Homo sapiens: one gene and its partners. The protein of the gene in region 5 interacts with the protein of the main gene of each other region in a biochemical or structural test. Each region holds a gene or a part of one and is shown on either strand. Other genes may lie near its edges. The genes, in order: SEMA3A, VEGFB, TGFBR2, TGFBR1 and NRP1.

What was found.
Region 1: the proteins of NRP1 (region 5) and SEMA3A form a complex in vitro, tested with the Homo sapiens proteins (one study listed by BioGRID).
Region 2: the proteins of NRP1 (region 5) and VEGFB form a complex in vitro, tested with the Homo sapiens proteins (one study listed by BioGRID).
Region 3: the proteins of NRP1 (region 5) and TGFBR2 form a complex in vitro, tested with the Homo sapiens proteins (one study listed by BioGRID).
Region 4: the proteins of NRP1 (region 5) and TGFBR1 form a complex in vitro, tested with the Homo sapiens proteins (one study listed by BioGRID).

Annotation. Positions count from the first base shown.
Region 1 is NC_000007.14:83,964,289-83,967,805, reverse strand, and holds part of SEMA3A (semaphorin-3A precursor), read left to right. Parts: intron 1-3,517. UniProt on the Homo sapiens protein: Involved in the development of the olfactory system and in neuronal control of puberty. Induces the collapse and paralysis of neuronal growth cones. Could serve as a ligand that guides specific growth cones by a motility-inhibiting mechanism.
Region 2 is NC_000011.10:64,233,275-64,237,383, forward strand, and holds the start of VEGFB (vascular endothelial growth factor B isoform VEGFB-186 precursor), read left to right. Parts: upstream 1-1,309; 5' UTR 1,310-1,559; coding exon 1,560-1,619; intron 1,620-2,183; coding exon 2,184-2,226; intron 2,227-2,538; coding exon 2,539-2,735; intron 2,736-2,979; coding exon 2,980-3,053; intron 3,054-3,912; coding exon 3,913-3,948; intron 3,949-4,109. Other genes in the region: DNAJC4 (dnaJ homolog subfamily C member 4), read left to right, coding at 620-839. UniProt on the Homo sapiens protein: Growth factor for endothelial cells. VEGF-B167 binds heparin and neuropilin-1 whereas the binding to neuropilin-1 of VEGF-B186 is regulated by proteolysis.
Region 3 is NC_000003.12:30,686,585-30,690,101, reverse strand, and holds part of TGFBR2 (TGF-beta receptor type-2 isoform B precursor), read right to left. Parts: intron 1,719-3,517; coding exon 1,591-1,718; intron 1-1,590. UniProt on the Homo sapiens protein: Transmembrane serine/threonine kinase forming with the TGF-beta type I serine/threonine kinase receptor, TGFBR1, the non-promiscuous receptor for the TGF-beta cytokines TGFB1, TGFB2 and TGFB3.
Region 4 is NC_000009.12:99,143,096-99,146,612, forward strand, and holds part of TGFBR1 (TGF-beta receptor type-1 isoform 1 precursor), read left to right. Parts: intron 1-1,636; coding exon 1,637-1,793; intron 1,794-2,401; exon of another isoform or gene 2,402-2,517; intron 2,518-3,389; coding exon 3,390-3,514; intron 3,515-3,517. UniProt on the Homo sapiens protein: Transmembrane serine/threonine kinase forming with the TGF-beta type II serine/threonine kinase receptor, TGFBR2, the non-promiscuous receptor for the TGF-beta cytokines TGFB1, TGFB2 and TGFB3.
Region 5 is NC_000010.11:33,181,161-33,184,677, forward strand, and holds part of NRP1 (neuropilin-1 isoform a precursor), read right to left. Parts: intron 1,589-3,517; coding exon 1,538-1,588; intron 1-1,537. UniProt on the Homo sapiens protein: Cell-surface receptor involved in the development of the cardiovascular system, in angiogenesis, in the formation of certain neuronal circuits and in organogenesis outside the nervous system. Mediates the chemorepulsant activity of semaphorins.

The DNA of each region.
Region 1 (3,517 bases), on a different chromosome or scaffold from region 5:
TATAAACAAAACAAAATTTTTAAAATTGATAGTTTTTTGTTTGTTTGTTTTGAGACTGAGTCTTGCTCTGTCACCCAGGCTAGAGTGCAATGGGTCGATCTTGGCTCACTGCAACCTCCGCTTCCCAGATTCAAGCGCTTCTCCTGCCTCAGCCTCCAGAGTAGCTGGGATTGTAGGTACCCGCCATTATGCCCCACTAATTTTTTGTATTTTTGTAGAAATGGGGTTTCACCATGTTGGCCAGGCCGTTCTTGAACCCTAGACCTCAAGTGATCCGTCCACCTCAGCCTTCCAAAGTGCTGGGATTACAGGCGTGAGCCACCATGCCCGGCAAAATTGACAGTATGTTTGACATCCCAAGAAAAAGTGAAGAACTTAATAAGGTTATAAGATAGGAACCGAAATATTATTTCTGTTCGTACTTTTTTCTGGAGCTGGGGAGAGAAGGGGGCTGGAGGGAGATAGAACACATTGTTAATGGATTTCTAATGTTTCCTATATTGTACAAAATTTATGCCAGTGGTTGCGGTAGAGCACTCAGGAAATGGAAAGGATATTTATTGAATGCCTTCTAATTATTATTTTAAAATATTGATTAGGTATCTGTTTATAAGATGTCAGGTTAGGGGAAATTAACAGAAAATTTTTTACTTCTGAACACCCAAATAGATGGGTGCTTGGCTGAGGCCATTTTAAATAAAAGTTCTGTTCCTAAGTCAGAAGCTGCTGATGGTAGAAACATCCTGTGGCAGAAGACTTAATAGAAATAACTGTATCCAATAAAAATTTACTTTTGGCCGGGCGCGGTGGCTCATGCCTGTAATCCCAGCACTTTGAGAGGCCGAGGCGGGCGAATCACCTGAGGTCGGGAGTTCAAGACCAGCCTAACCAACATGGAGAAACCCTGTCTCTACTAAAAATACAAAATTAGCTGGGCGTGGTGGCGCATGCCTGTAATCCCAGCTACTAGGGAGTCTGAGGCAGGAGAATCGCTTGAACCCGGGAGGCGGAGGTTGCCGTGAGCCGAGATCACGCCATTGCACTCCAGCCTGGGCAACAATAGGGAAACTCCGTCTCAAAAAAAAAAAGAAAAAAAATTTACTTTTAATAATTATTGCTGATCGCAGCAGAACCTAACAAAATATAAAATAGGAGAATCTTAAACCAAAGAAATACAATAGTATCGCTGTATCTTGATCGTGATTGATAGTTAACATGACAGGGCTTTTAGCCTCACCGGTCACTAGCTGGATGATTCTGTTTCTTTTTGTTGGACAAAAAGGGGAAAGAAAGGGTAAACTTGGGAAATAATGAGACTTTGAGGTACTGGCAAGAGTAGTTATCAAAGCAAACTTACTAAGGGCACCAAGCTCATAAACCAAATTAACCTATTGTGGTTCTTGCCTTATTTAGGTGAGAAAGTACCTGAATATCAGAATGTTTCTTGAAGAGAGTGAAATATTAGTATATTAAACTAAAAACAATTTGTTATCATAATTGCTAAATCAAACACCATCTTATAGTCTATAAGTCTATAAGACTATAGTCTATAGTCTAGATTCCACTATGAAGAAGTAGCAGATCAAATGAAATAATTTTTTAATAAAAGAATATTTTCTATTGAAAGAACTATTTTTACATGTTTTCTGGTACATTGGAAAAAGCTTGCCACCACCAGAGGATGTCCTGAAGAGGAAATGAAAACTGAGCAGTTACCTAGAACTACAAGAAAGATTACCAGAAAATTATCTCTGTGGACTAACTAGAATGATTAAATTAGTTAGAAAGAAGACAACTAAGTGATTTTTTTTTAATGCACCCATTGGTGGCTGGGCGCGGTGGCTCACACCTGTAATCCCAGCACTTTGGGAGGCTGAGGTGGGCGGATCACGAGGTCAGGAGATCGAGACCATCCTGGCTAACACGTTGAAACCCTGCCTCTATTAAAATACGAAAAACTAGCTGGGCGTGGTGGCAGGCACCTGTAGTCCCAGCTACTTGGGAGGCTGAGGCAGGAGAATGGCATGAACCCGGGAGGCGGAGCTTGCAGTGAGCCGAGATCGCACCACTGAACTCCAGCCTGGGAGACAGAGTAAGACTCCGTCTCAAAAAAAAAAAAAAAAAAAAAAAAAAAAAAAATATATATATATATATATATATATATATATATATATATATGCACCCATTGGTGTTACATTGGTATTGAAACACTTTTATTTTCTATTATACTAGTTACGTGACTCCTCTTATCTGAGTCAATTAATGTATTGAAGGATTTATATGAAATTCTATCTTTGAGAGTAGTAATTTATACCATAGTTTTCTTTAGTAGCTTTAGCAGATTATGCAAGAGACAAGTCAGTTGCAGTTATAAATTTCTACCTGGGAAAATAGACCTAGGAGACATGGCTGTTGATAAAGGAGATGCTGGCAGATCACTGGGTTGTTTGTTTCTAAATCCAGTGGATTTTTCTATATTTTGATGTCATATATAATTCATTCATATATAGAGATTGAATGAAAGGTCTCCTCCTAAAAGTATTTCTTAATAAAGAAAAGTTTAAACGGGCCGGACGCGGTGGCTCATGCCTGTAATCCCAGCACTTTGGGAGGCCGAGGCGGGCGGATCACGAGGTCAGGAGATCGGGACCATGCTGGCTAAAATGGCGAAACCCCATCTCTACTAAAAATACAAAAAAAAAAAAATACAAAAAAGTTTAAATCACAGAACAGTTAGAAAAAAAAGTATTCAATGTAAATAGCATTAACTTCTGTGACAATGCATTCTAATTATTCAGGTAGCTCCTGAATTACAGATTTTCCAGCCCCTGTTGGCCATAGCAATTAAATTCACCTGTATCCCAGGAAGCAGCTATCTTACAAATGAGTATAGCAACATGTTCCATATGCATTCAATTCAAGACGCACTAATAATCTCAGAGGGGAAAAAAAAACAGCCTATACAATATAGATATTGGCACATGAAGATATGCATGTCCAATTTTTTTTAAATGTGACTTGGAATCAGTTAAATATTATTTCTTTACATTGCAATCATTTCTGATTTATTTTCCTATTTCCAGGGCATTGATCTTTTCAATAAGAGACAGATAATTCCCAATATTGGAAGAGTTTTGTTTCACACCTAGGGCATTTGAGAAACAGGCACTGAGGTTGACACCTCTGTAGACAGCAATTGAAGGTAGAAGGTGGAATGAAGTAGGTAGGGTATGATGAGGGTAGGAGATGATAGACACAGGCCTTGTACAGGGATTGTATGGGAGTAGCATTTTTGAAGGCTTTAAACCTAGTGAGAGCAAATCATCAGCTATGACAGTCAAAGGTATTCAGTTGATTATGACAAGAGTAAAACTGTCAAAGTGATGACAAAAAAGGGGAAAACATTTTTTAAATTAAAAATCTAGCTGAGTTTGAAGTAGAGAGCAAAAATTTTTCATCTGTCTACACTGTCAGCTTTCTGTGCATGTAAAACATATTTATTATTTTCTAAATTAAT
Region 2 (4,109 bases), on a different chromosome or scaffold from region 5:
CCAGGCTGCAGTGCAGTGGCGCAATCTCGGCTCACTGCAACCCCACCTCTGCCTCCCAGGTTCAAGCAATTCTTCTGTCTCAGCCTCCCGAGTAGCTGGGACTACAGGCGTCCACCACCACACCCGGCTAGTTGTTTTGTATTTTTAGTAGAGATGGGGTTTCACCATATTGGCCAGGCTGGTCTCAAACTCCTGACCTCAGGTGATCCACCCGCCTCAGCCTCCCAAAGTACTGGGATTACAGGTGAGAGCTACCGCGCCTGGCCACAAAGCCGATTTTCTATAGCAGATACCTAAAGGCCAGTGCCCACTGCTAGCAGCCTGCCTAGTTCAGTGATGGAGTTAGACGCATACCCTTTCTAGTCTTCTGGGAGGAGCACCCCCATGTCCACAGCTGCTGTCACACCTCAAAGTGACCAGGGACTTCGGATGCCATTGGACCCTAGACAAGCCAGGGCCACTCTGAGCCCTCCCTATCTATCACAGGAAGGGTTAGACTGAGGTTCCTAACCCTGTGTAAGGGTAAAAAGCTGTGAGGCCCCTAGAGTGGGGTGGAAGGGGGCAGGACTTCAGGGACAGCAGGAATTGGATTCCCAGGGTTAATTGTGACCCATTGCAGGAAGGTGAAGCAGATGCACCTTAACTTCATGGATGAAAAGGATCGGATCATCACAGCCTTCTACAACGAAGCCCGGGCACGGGCCAGGTCTGTCCCTGCTCTATTCTGCTCCCTGCTCCCTGTCCAGGAACCACACTTCGGGATCCCTATCCCAACCACCCAGGTGCCCTCTCCTCCAGGGCCAACAGAGGCATCCTTCAGCAGGAGCGACAACGGCTAGGGCAGCGGCAGCCGCCACCATCCGAGCCAACCCAAGGCCCCGAGATCGTGCCCCGGGGCGCCGGCCCCTGAGGGGCTCACCTGGATGGGGCCTGCAGTGCGTTCCCGCTTTGCTTCCTTCCCTGGACGGCCCGCTCCCCGAAACGCGCGCAATAAAGTGATTCGCAGAGCTCGTGTCCGGCTCCCTCCTTAAGGCCCGACGCCCCCGGCCCCGGCCTCGCCAAGGGGCAGCGCCCCGCCCTCCGGGTAGTGGCGGCGGCGACTGGGGAGCCCAGCCTCCTGGGCGGTGCGTCCCCTTTCCCCTGCCGCGGCGGGAGGCGGGAGGGGGTGTGTGGAGGAGGCGGGCCCCGCCGACGGCCTCGCCCCCCCACCCCGCCGCCCCGCCCCCGCCCCACGGGCCGGTGGGGAGCGCGTGTCTGGGTCACATGAGCCGCCTGCCCGCCAGCCCGGGCCCAGCCCCCCGCCGCCCCCGCCGTCCCCGCCGCCGCTGCCCGCCGCCACCGGCCGCCCGCCCGCCCGGCTCCTCCGGCCGCCTCCGCTGCGCTGCGCTGCGCTGCCTGCACCCAGGGCTCGGGAGGGGGCCGCGGAGGAGTCGCCCCCCGCGCCCGGCCCCCGCCCGCCGCGCCCGGGCCCGCGCCATGGGGCTCTGGCTGTCGCCGCCCCCCGCGCCGCCGGGCTAGGGCGATGCGGGCGCCCCCGGCGGGCGGCCCCGGCGGGCACCATGAGCCCTCTGCTCCGCCGCCTGCTGCTCGCCGCACTCCTGCAGCTGGCCCCCGCCCAGGTACGTGCGGCCCGACAGCGCGCCCGCCCGCCCGCCGTGCCCTCTCTCAAGGTTGGCGGAAGTGAGGAGGCGACCCGCGGCCTCGGCCGAGGGGATCTGCGGGGTCCGGCCTTGGACGCGGGCGTCTCGGGGGCCCGGCGCGTGCATCCCCTGGGAGGTGCCCCTCCCCGCTGGCCCGCCAGCCCCAGTCTGGGGCCACTCCTCCGCCCCACCCCGTCCCCTGGGCACCGCCGGGGGCGGGGCTCCCTCGGTGCCTGCAGGACCTGCTTCGGTGGGCACTGTGCGCGCTCCTGATCTGCATGCAGCCCCCAAACATGCTCGGCTCCGCGGCCTGGAGATTTGGCGCGGCCACCAGAGCACCTGTTGCGTTTTGGGCCAGGGCAGGTCCCGGGTGGCCAGGAGAGGACAGGTAAAGCTAGAGCAGTGGCCGCAGGAACAGAGCAATCTGGAAAGATGTCAGAGAGGTGGTGAAGCCTACTGATGCAAGGGCAAAGCCCCAGGGACGGTGACAGGGCCACACCCTCCTAAAGTGTACCTTGGGTACAGGTCTTTTCTCTCCCACAGGCCCCTGTCTCCCAGCCTGATGCCCCTGGCCACCAGAGGAAAGGTAATACTTACAAAAACTCGGCACTAGCCAGCACTAAGAGGGTTTGTCATGGGCCCTGATTCCAGGTGTCCATCATCTTGTGTAACTCCCCTAGAAGATTCAAACTATTATTCTACCCATTTCACAGAGGAGGAAATTGAGGCAGTGGGGTTACTGGGATCTGGATAAACAGGGCAGGGGAAGACAGGTTGTGAGGGCAGAGTGGGGAGGGCTAGTGGAGGGTGGCTGTGACTTGGGGACTGGGGAGGACAGATGCTGGGAGCAGCTGCAGGAAAACCAGTGAGGACTTAACCCCTACCGGTCTGCTCCCAGTGGTGTCATGGATAGATGTGTATACTCGCGCTACCTGCCAGCCCCGGGAGGTGGTGGTGCCCTTGACTGTGGAGCTCATGGGCACCGTGGCCAAACAGCTGGTGCCCAGCTGCGTGACTGTGCAGCGCTGTGGTGGCTGCTGCCCTGACGATGGCCTGGAGTGTGTGCCCACTGGGCAGCACCAAGTCCGGATGCAGGTACTGGGCAGGTGGGGCAACGGGCAGGGGATGCAGGTACTGGGCAGGTGGGGCAGCGGGCAGGGTGGATGCTGGCTGGCTCTGGGGCTGGGGCAGCCTGGAGACTGATGCACAGGAGACAGGGTTGGGGGGAGGGCTGGTGGCCAGCCTCCCGGCTGTTGGGTGAGCTTTTCTCCCTTCAGTCTTAGAGCATCCCCTTTCTCTCTCTCCCTCACTGTCCCCCCTGTTCTTCTCCTGAGCACAGATCCTCATGATCCGGTACCCGAGCAGTCAGCTGGGGGAGATGTCCCTGGAAGAACACAGCCAGTGTGAATGCAGGTGCCAGCCAGGCCCAACTTCTGAGCTCGCAGAGGCCAGGCTTGGGGGGTGCTGGGTATGGTGGTCCACAGAACTGGGGACCAGGTTCCTAAGAGTAGAACCAAGGGGCCGGGCGTGGTAGCTCACGCCTGTAATCCCAGCACTTTGGGAGGCCGAGGCGGGCGGATCATGAGGTCAGGAGATCGAGACCATCCTGGCTAACATGGTAAAAACCTGTCTCTACTAAAAAAATACAAAAAATTAGCCGGGCGTGGTGGCGGGCACCTGTAGTCCCAGCTACTCCGGAGGCTGAGGCAGGAGAATGGCATGAACCTGGGAGGCGTAGCTTGCAGTGAGCCAAGATCGTGCCACTGCATTCCAGCCTGGGCGACAGAGCAAGACTCTGCCACAAAAAAAAAAAAAAAAAAAAAAAAAAAAGAGTAGAGCCAAGGGTAGGCCTTGGATCTGGGGCAACAAAGTAGGATGCTTGGGCCGGGGGTAGTGGCTCACACCTATAATCCCAGCACTTTGGGAGGCCCAGGCAGGCAGATCACCTGAGGTAAGGCGTTTGAGACCAGCCTGGCCAACATGGTGAAACCCCATCTCTACTAAAAAAAAATACAAAAATTAGCCGCGCATGGTGGCAGGTGCCTGTAATCCCAGCTACTTGGGAGGCTGAGACAAGAGAATAGCTTGAACCTGGGAGGCGGAGGTTGCAGTGAGCCGAGACCACGCCACTGCACTCCAGCCTGGGCAAGAAGAGGGAAACACAGTCTCAAAGAGAGAGAGAGAGAGAGAGAGAGAGAGAGAGAGAGAGTAGGATGCTGGGATTTCCTGATCTTCCTCTTGTTTGTCTGTGTCTGTCTATCTTACTTTTCAGACCTAAAAAAAAGGACAGTGCTGTGAAGCCAGACAGGTGAGTCTTTTGGACTCCAGCTGAGTAGGGGTATGGGGAGTACAAGTGAGTCCAGAAGCTGTTGCTCCTCTTTCTCCTCCCACCCGTCCCCCACTTTCCCTTTTCCTCTGCTCCCCAAGCCTGTGTTCTCTGCCCCGACCCCAGCTCTAGGGAAGACTCTT
Region 3 (3,517 bases), on a different chromosome or scaffold from region 5:
GTTTTCTAATACCAACAACTTTCCAAACACACCTAGGAGCCTATCTCTCCCTCCCCACCCGATGAGTTCATGATGTTAAATTAATTGCATAATTCACCTAATTGACAGTATTGACAGATGGCCCTGTTAAGAGTAGAGTGCTATTGTTGGTACACAAGTAACATTTATTTTATTCTGGCACTGTAATTACAGGCAGTAAATTAAATTAAATATTAAGCATTAACTTGAAATCAATAGGGCAACAAATCTCATTATGAGAAAAAATGTATTATGCAAATTCTTTTCAGAATTTTATCATCATGAATAATGGCATCATTACGAGAACTATACAGCAGAGGAGGCAACAGAGTTTGAAAGAAACATAACACTCCAGCACATTCTGATTTCAGAATTTATGCAAAATATTCTTACAGTTTTAGTGTCAAAGAGGATTTGCTCAAAACTCCAGAGAAGCCTGTGACCCACCACAGCCTGGTTCCCCCTCGCCAACCTCCTCGGACTTTATTAAGGTCTGTCTGCTGAAGTGGCTCTGGGCCAGGACTGGCACAGACCAGACTTCCTGCTCCATTTGTCTTCCCGATTGTGCCTGATTTGTTGTTTCTGTTTCTTATCTGAATTTGCCTTGCCCTTAGGGAAACCAACAACTTAGCCTCGGCCTTCATGGTTGAGGGAATTCATCCAAAAGAGGCAATAAAAGGTTTTAGTCAGTAGAAAGAACAGTCTTCTCAGTGAGATAGGGCCACACTGTTCTCTCTCATTCTTCACTAAGGGCTCCTTCCTGGGTGTGTCAGACATATAGCTGGTTCTGACTCACTCACAACCTATCGTTTTCTTTTTTCTCTGACCATTGCCCTCATCAAAGTGCCCCCAAACAAACAATTTGGATCAGCCTCTTTATGAGTCCAGAATGACTGCCCTGCTATGGACAGCCTTAGCTAGCATTTCTTAACAAGGAAAAATAAGAGGCCATTAGGATGTTCCCAACAGACAGATTTCTCGTTCCTTCCAGGGCATTCTCCTCTTCTTTGCTTTCCTTAATTCCAGAGTGAGGAGTCGGTCTCCTCTTTCCCACGCGTGCTCACTCAGGCCTCTCCCAAGTCTGTGAGCACAGCCTGCAAACACCTGTACACAGCCTTCTGCATGCCACAGTCACTTCTCACTACAGCTGCCTGACAAACCCTGCTTGTTTTGCATCTGCTAAGTATTTCCTTATGGAGCTGAAGATTCCCAGAAGAAAACATTTGGAATCCAGAGGGAATCAAATATAAACTCCTGACGTGAAGGCCCAGGAGTAAGTAGCAGAGGCTGCAAACAAAATGTTTTAACCCAGGACCAAGGGGGCTTGGAAAATGTGGCAAATGTCCTCCGAATGGCTATTTGTGAACTCTCAGAGTACATATCAGCTGGTTGGAGCCTATAATAATTGGGTTATCCACTGTATTGAAATTTGCTTTATAAACAAAATTTAACAGGGCCATAGAACACAATGGGACCTTCCCTCAGATTTAAGCTCAATATTCCAGAATTCTCTGCCACCTAAGAGGCAACTTGGTTGAATCTTACTGACCTTTGTAAACACTCACTCCTTACCTGGTGGTTGAGCCAGAAGCTGGGAATTTCTGGTCGCCCTCGATCTCTCAACACGTTGTCCTTCATGCTTTCGACACAGGGGTGCTCCCGCACCTTGGAACCAAATGGAGGCTCATAATCTTTTACTTCTGTGAAGAAAGCCAGCAAACACAGGGTCACTGAGAATGGCATGTGCAGCCAAAGGAAATGAGCATGGTGAGATGCCTGGCTGGGGAGCATGAAGCACTAAGTAACAAATACATACGTAATTACTCTAAGAGCAAATTTTAATAATAATGGCTAAGATAAGAAGGAAGGAGTGGTTGGGGAAGGGCTAGAGAAGTATTCAATAAATGATTGTTGAGTACTTAAAATGTGCTAGGTGTTACGCTGGGGGACACAGTGGACAACAAGATAGAGAGGGTCACGGAGCTTAGGTTTTAACACAGGCATTTTCTACAGGGGGATATTGCAGCAAAAGGGTGAAACTGGTTCTTGGGAAGTGGAAAAATCTTATGTATTACAATGGTTTGTGAGCCTCCAAAGGCCCAGAGTATACAAAGAGATTTAAAATGTGGTATTAAATTTCATGTAGGTATTGAGGCATAAAAAGGAATGAAACTCTGGCACATGCTACAACATGGATGAATCTTGAAGACATTATGCTAAGTGAAATAAGCCAGACACAAAAGGACAAATATTGTATCATTCCACTTGTATGAAGTACCTTGTACAGGTATATTCAGAGACAGTATAATGGTGGTTGTCCAGGGGGCAACCTGGGAGGAAAGGGTACGAAAAGTTATCCTTTAAGGGGTAAAGAATTTCAGTTGAGCAAATTTCAGTACAGAAAAATGAATAATGGTGATGGTTGTAGAGCACTGCGAAGGTACTTAATGCCAGTAAACTGTACACTTAAAAATGGTTAAGATGGTACATTTTATATTATGCCTATTTTGCTACAGAAAAACATCATGGAGAGTAGTGTTTAGAAAAAAAGTTGTCTACAGGCCAGGTGCTGTGGCTCATGTGTGTAATCCCAGCACTTTAGGAGGCTGAAGGAGGATATCTTGACTCCGGGAGTTTGAGACCAACCTGGGCAACATAGCGAGATCCTCTATCTATACAAAATAAAAAACAAAACAAGCAAACAAAAAAAGTTGTTTAAAAAGGCTCCTTACGATATCACTGATTTTAAAAAAGGTTGAGAAATGCTGTTTTAGTGGGAAGACAGAGGGGACAGATTAACAACATCAACAAAATTTTAAAACGATAATTTTCCTCTGATGGTATATTCAATAAAGAAAATGATAAAGGAGGAGGTAACCCTTCACCGGGGCCTCAGGCTTCAACTAAGGTCAAATTCTTTATAAAAACTTCCTTGAACATCCTTAGGGTCAATCTTGGTTAGATATCCTGGGCAGGGCTCTATTCGTGCATATACCATATTTTATTTAATATATTCACCTGCTTATTTTTCTCACCTAACTGGACTGTGAGCATTTGGGTGCAAGTTGAGTCCCTTTCTCATTCTTGTATTCTTGGTGCCAATTGCAAGGGTCTCCCATGCCAACAGGCTGTCAACAAATGCTTTGTTGAGTGAGTGAATGAATGAATGAATGAATGAATCTTAGATTCTCTCCAAAGTGGCAGTGCATAAACTCTGGCCAAACATTAAAACAAAACACCAATTTAAATGAGCAGATTAATATAGTGTAAACAGAGCACAGGACACTTAAAAAGATAGAAAACATCCCAGTACTAAAACATGCCTGGGCTGAAAGGAGAGATTGGGCTGGATTCAACACTGTTCTCCAAAGTAAGTAGGATCTTTGGCCTTTAGCTTCAAAATAATCTTATTTAATGAGTAAAACTTTCAATACATTTGCACTTCTAGGTAACGAATTGAAGAAGCTTTCATGGCAAGATGACATTTTGAAAAGGGACG
Region 4 (3,517 bases), on a different chromosome or scaffold from region 5:
ACTGGAGATATTTAAAACAAATTTTTTAGATGAGAACATTTTATCTTTCAGTTCAAAATTTCAGGTAGAGCTAGGAATCTGGAAATTTGTTTAGAGATTCTCTAGTCGTTGTAACAAAACTGTGATTTTTTTTGAGTTCTTAAAAGTAGCATTCAATCTTATGATTTTTGAGGATCTCAGTTTCAGAATTCAGGTCCAACTGAATATATTTTTATGTGTAGTATCAAATGAAATGTGAAAGTGCTTTGTAAACATCAACATGCTAGGTAACTGTTATCTGGCCATCTAATAATTATATTTGACCTTGAGATAAGGAGACTGCATGAGATAGTTTTACAGTTGAAAAATTAAATACTAAGTTTTAGTTATGACATTTGTATGCTGTAGTTTTTGTGCATGTGGGATTTCAGATGCCAGTATATCTCTCTGCTCTAGCAGTTGTCCACTTGCAACCCAATGGCTCCCCCACTCCCCACTTTACATACAGCATAAGTGCTAGTTCACATCTTAGCTCCATCTTTGTAGTTATTATTATTATTGATTGTAACAGTTTTATTGAGTTATAATTCACATCATAAAGTTCACCCACTTAAAGTGTAAAATTCAGTGGTTTTTAGAATACTCAGAGTTGTACAGCCAGCAAACACTACAGTCAATTTTAGAATATCTTCACTCCAAAGAGAAACCCTGTAGCCACTAGCAGTCACTCCCCTTTCCTCCCAAACTCCTTAGCCCTAGGCAACAACTGCTCCTTTTTGTCTGTAGATTTGCTTATTCTGCACATTTTATATAAATGAATCATACAATATGTGGTCTTTTGTGACTGGCTTCTTTCACTTAGCATGTTTTCAAGGTTCATTTATGTTGTAGCACGTATGAGTACTTCAGTCATTTTGATGGCTAAGTAATACTTCAGTGTATGGATATGGCATATGTCATATATCCGTTCGTTGATGGACATTTGGTTTGTTTCTTTTGGCCATTGTAGCTAATGCTGCAGTGAACATTTGTGTACAAGTTGTATGTAGTTTCATGTTTTCAGTTATCTTGGGTATATACCTAGGAGTTGAATTACTGTATCATATGATAACTCTATTTAATGGTTTGAAGAACTGCCATACTATTTTCTTAAAGTGCCTGAACCATTTTACATTCCTGCCAGCAGTGTATGAAGGTTCCAGGTTTTCCACATTATAATTATTATTTTTTAATAACATTTTCTAGTGGTTAGCATCAAAGATAATATACTTAATACTGAGTACATTGCAGTTGATAGGGAAGTGATGTTCTACATGCTTGGTTCCTGGGCTGCTGGAATATCAGTCTATGGCTAAGTTTCTTAAAAAGAATTCATAAGGCACCAACAGATAAACTGATAACTTTTTTTTTGCCCCAGTCTTTGAGTTGTTCATCTTTTAAAGCATGTTATTGTCCACATTTTCTTTAAAGAAATATAAATTCAGTGACTTTTGGTGTAGTGATTCACTTGAGTTTAATAATGCCGTAAGTATTGTAGGTCATGTGGGCTGAAATGCTTTGATAATTTGGGTTGGGAGAAGAGACTTTTGAACCTAAAGATGTGAGTTGTGATTGGTATTACCTTTTAAGCAGTCATGTTTAATTTTTGATTCTTTAGGAAAGCCAGCCATTGCTCATAGAGATTTGAAATCAAAGAATATCTTGGTAAAGAAGAATGGAACTTGCTGTATTGCAGACTTAGGACTGGCAGTAAGACATGATTCAGCCACAGATACCATTGATATTGCTCCAAACCACAGAGTGGGAACAAAAAGGTATACTTTTGAACAACTATATTTAATATCTTCTGAAATCACCTTTTTTCCCTTCTCTTTCATATATACATATCATTGCTGAAACTCAGCTTAAACTTGCACTTTATTAGATTGCCAACAGGTAAGAAGATCTCATGGTCTTGCCTGCTCTGAAGCCAGAGTTACCTGACTTAAAAAGATGCCTGCTGATGAAAGGTTGCCCTTCCAGAAAATATCATTAGGCATGTTAATTATAATAACAGTAGTAACTAACGTTTATAGGGCACCTACTATGTGCCAATCGTCTAATAGGTCTTTTACGTATATTACCTCATTTAATCCCTTCTCAAATACTGTGCAGTAGCTAGCCCTGCTATTTTCATATTTCAGTTCCTAAAAATATGCCTTTCTTGCTTTCTTAGAACTTTTGCACATGCTGTCTCCTGGAGCATACTTTACCCTACTGTTTCTCAGCCTCATACCCACCTTTCCCGTAGGAAGTTTTTTCTAGTCCTCAAAAATCTTAGGAGTCCCTGCCAGGGACTGTCATAGCACACTGAACTGGGACCGTTGAGGCACTTATGCGTTATGTTGTAACTGTTTATTTATTTGCCTATATATTCTATTAGGTGCAAGCTGCTTGAGAGCAGCCTTGTATTCCCAGCATCCATCACAGTGCCTAATACATGGTAGATCCTCAGTAGATATTTGTTGAGTCCATGAGTCTTCAAAAGAACTTAATTAGGTAGGTGTTATTACCCTTTAATTCACAGATGAGGAAACCACCTTGAGGAGGTTAAATAATATGGCCAGCTTCATGTGGATGATAAGCCGAAGAGCTGAGATTTGAACCTGGGCATTTCTGACCCAAACCCCTTATCACAAGCTGTCACAGCATTTTTTCAAACTACTGTCTTGGCCTTGGAGACAGCTGGAGAGCCAGCAGCATTAGTCTATTCAAATTGCATGTATAATTTTGAGATTTCTGGATTCCCTGGGGACTCTCAATTTTCCCATCCAAGTACTAAGCAGGCCCGACCCTGCTTAGCTTCCAAGATCAGACGAGATCGGGCGTGTTTAGGGTGGTATGGCCGTAGATGACTCTCAATTCTCAACCAGCTAAGGGGTCCTTGTCAGTGGTTGCTGTAGGTCTCTGTGGGTCCTGACCCATAATTTTGGTAGGTTTTTGAAGCTTCAGTATGAGGACTGGCATTCTTTTGTATCTATTATTTTTTTCCCTGGAGTATATTCGTGCCCTTCCTTTCATCCTCAGTGAGAAGACTTCTAAATTAAAATGCATGGTTTCTACCTAGTACGTGTATAGGTGGTGTACATTAGGACACCTTTAACAGTCACAATTGTTATGTATGTCTTTCATTGGAAACCAAGATCATGAGGCAGATAGTGTGAAACTGCTATTTTAGCATTTTGTGGGATTTAGTTGACATCATTAATGTGCAAACCAGTGTGGATATTTAATATTTTTCTTGAGTCTAATATTTGTTATGTAATATTGTGTACATATGTCTATGTATAAAGAAATGTCTGAAAGGAGGTTCATCCAAATATGGCAGTAAGGGGATGATTTTCAAAGTTCTTTTTGCAAATTTTTTTTAGGTACATGGCCCCTGAAGTTCTCGATGATTCCATAAATATGAAACATTTTGAATCCTTCAAACGTGCTGACATCTATGCAATGGGCTTAGTATTCTGGGAAATTGCTCGACGATGTTCCATTGGTGGTA
Region 5 (3,517 bases):
GGTACTAGAAACGGGATGAAAATGTTAACGCACAATATGCCTGGGGTTTACTTAATGGTGTTCTGATCAACAAAGATTCCAATCAAAGAAAACTAAAAATATGAGATGCAAATCCCTAACCAAGAGAAAACAAGCCTTGGGGCATATTAATACTCTCTCCCTTGATGAAATATTGTTTTGAAACAACCTCTAATAAAGTTTACATCTCTGTGTGGACTTGGTAATGTGTTCATATTACTAACAGCAAGGTGCAATATTTATTTGTCTCTATGAAGTCCACGGCTGGCCATAGAGTAGGATCCCATTTCTAAGGGCAACAGATGCTGACATGCATTGATGATAAGGGTGCAGCACCATCCACACAGCAGCTGTGAGTGATGGTGGAGCAAGTGTCCAACAGCCCACAATGCTGGCTGGGAGATCTGGAAACTTCTGGGAATAGACTAATACCAGGCAAGGCCTAACTCTGATCAAAGGTCTTGCATTTGATCACAAAGCAGCGTTCAGCAAAAACACACATTTATAGTTCATCAGGCTAAAGTGTGAGGCTACCACCTAATTAGCTATGCTACTTAAGTTTCAGTCTCACTATCTGTAAAATGGGGACAAATACAACCCCTAGAGCTGCTGTGAGGATTAAATAAGATAAGGTATGTAGGACGGGTGCAGTGGCTCACGCCTGTAATCCCAGCACTTTAGGAGGCTGAGGCCAGGGAATTGCTTAAGCTAAGGAATTCAAGACCAGCCTGGGCAACATGGTGAAACTCCACCTTACAAAAGACAAAAAAATAAGTTGAGTGTGGTGGTGTGGGCCTGTAGTCTGCTCGGAAGGTTGAGGCAGGAAAATCGCTTGAACCTGGCAGGTGGAGGCTGCAGTGAGCTGAGATCACGCCACTGCACTCCAAGCCTGGGTGACAGAGACAGACTCTGTCTCAAGAAAAAAAGAAAAGAAAAAGATCAGGTAAGTAAAGTGCTCAGAACATACTAACTCTTCAATAAATCCTTCTTATCATCATCATCATCATCACAAAACCAAGGTTCTAGTAGAGGAAGATGGGAAAAGATGAATCAAACACAATGGATTATCTCAGAAATTGGGCTCTGGTCTCTTAAAGATCCTAGCTGGATATCAACAAACAGAAGAATTTCGGTTGGTTTCAAATAACTGTGTATGGAAATAGTCTTCACTAATTTTCTGTCTTTGTAGTGATAAACTGAGTGTGTTTGAGCTGATTATCCTTTATGTTCCACCTCTAGACTGGGCAGGGAAGGGCCAGGGTGAGCACACTTCCCAGGCTCAACCAGGTGTACAAGCAGGACCCGTCACCGAGGCTCCCCAAGTCTTATGGGCAGCTCGGAAGTGGGTACTCTGTGAGCACAATCCGATCCACAGCACCAACCCAGGGCCATGGGCATAGATGTTTTTTATTTGAACTTTTTGACATACCAGTGTATTAGAGTTCCACAAAGTTTCTTCATAAACACAATGAAAGCCATAGTAAAATTTTTTAAAAATTGGTCAGCAAGACAAATTTACCTGTTTCATCAATTTTAATTTCTGGGTTCTTTTTATCCAGGTCTGCTGGTTCTGACAAGTCAAACAAAATTGAAAGAGATATTTGAACTGCCATCAAAATATAATGCACCAAACTACACAAACCTTTAGGTACATGCACACACACACACACACACACACACACACGTGTCTACTGGGCTCCTTTTGGATTTTTTAGTTCAATCAGAAATCACCAAACAGATCAATAAAGAGGCAATGTTAAATGACCGGGAAATTGGTAATGTGACATCACAACACTGCCTTTAAGGTGCCATATCTAAATCCAGGTAGCACTGCTGCTAGCAGAATCTGTTGTTTTAGGAGACAAGGGTGGGCTGGGTATGCTGGCTCGTGCCTATAATTCCAGCACTTTGAGAGGGCAAGGCAGGAGAACCACATTAGGCTAGGAGTTTAGGACCAGCCTGGGCAACATAGTGAGATCCCATCTCTACAAAAATAAAAAAATTAGCTTTCCAGCTGCTTAGGAGGCTGAGGCGGAAGGAGAGCTTGTGCCCAGGAGATGGAGTTTACAGTGAGCCATGATGGTGCCACTGCACTCCACCCTGGGTGACGGAAGCAAGAGCCTGTCTCAAAAAAGCAAAAACAACAACAACAAATTTAAAAAAAAAAAAAAAGAAGAGAAGGGGGAAGAGACATGGTTTTGGCATCTGAAATGTGGAAAAAAATCTGGTGAATATAGGTTCTACTGAAGTAGATTCGTACATATGGTGACCATCCTATAGTTTGTAGATAACTGCTTCCTAAATTTAGTGTGCGTTAGTTTGGCTTCTCGAATAGTATGCCAACTCTTTGAGGCAAGAGACTGTGCCCTGTGTATTACAAAAATAGATAAATACATAAAATAGCTATTGAAGAAGTAGAGTTCCAGTATTCCTGTGGTACTAAGTACAGAGCAGGAATTTTTGAGTGCTTTGTCCACTGCTGTATTCCAGCATTTACAACAGTGTCTAGCACATCATAGGTGCTTTAATAGATATTTGTTCTATGTATGAATGAATGAAAGATTAATAAATAGTTGATAATCTCATAGCATCCACACCCAGATGTTCAAGGATGCATATTTGATGAATCATTGTACAATTGTCTTACACATATTTTTATTGGTAGCAGCATAAACAAATAAACAAAGTGGTTTAATGGAGCCGTAGTTGTGAATTTCCCACTACAATGTCTGGCAGCAACTACAGCTAAATGGACAAATCACAAGAAAAGAAAAAGTCCCATAGAATTGTCTCAACTATGTGCTTTCTTTTCTTTTCTCCCTTCCTTCCTTCCTTCTTTTTTCTTTTTTTTGAAATGGGGTCTTGCTCTGTGGCCTAGGCTGGAGTGCAATGGTATGACCTTGGCTCACTGCAACTTCCGCCTCCTGGGTTCAAGCAATTCTCCTGCCTCAGCCTTCCGAGTAGCTGGGATTACTACAGCTGCGTGCCACCACGCCCAGCTAATTTTTGTATTTTTTAGTAGAGATGGGGTTTTGCCATGTTGGCCAGGCTGGTCCTAAACTCCTGATCTCAAATGATCCTCCTGCCTCGGCCTCCCAAAGTGCTGGGATGACAGACGTGAGCCACTGCACCCGGCTCAGCCATGTACTTTCACTGGAGCATCCGCATGCTGCTTTGCATATGGTATGTAGTCAGTTAGAACTTGTTGAACCGAATTGAATTTCGTTAGAACTTGTTGAACTGAATTTAATTTCGTTTCTTTGTTTTAGTCTGTGGAGTTTGTTCTCACATCCCAAAACATCACCATCATCACTCTCACTTTGGAATGGAGAAGTGAAGAAATCACAGACACTGTGTTACTACATGAAATACACATTTTTACAGCAGTGTAGATATGGATGTGGGTAATTTGTAAAGGAGTTGCAACTAAACTATTAAGCCTTATCATTCTTGTGAAGATTTGCTAAATAGTGCAGCACTAAGCAGATTCCCTTTAATA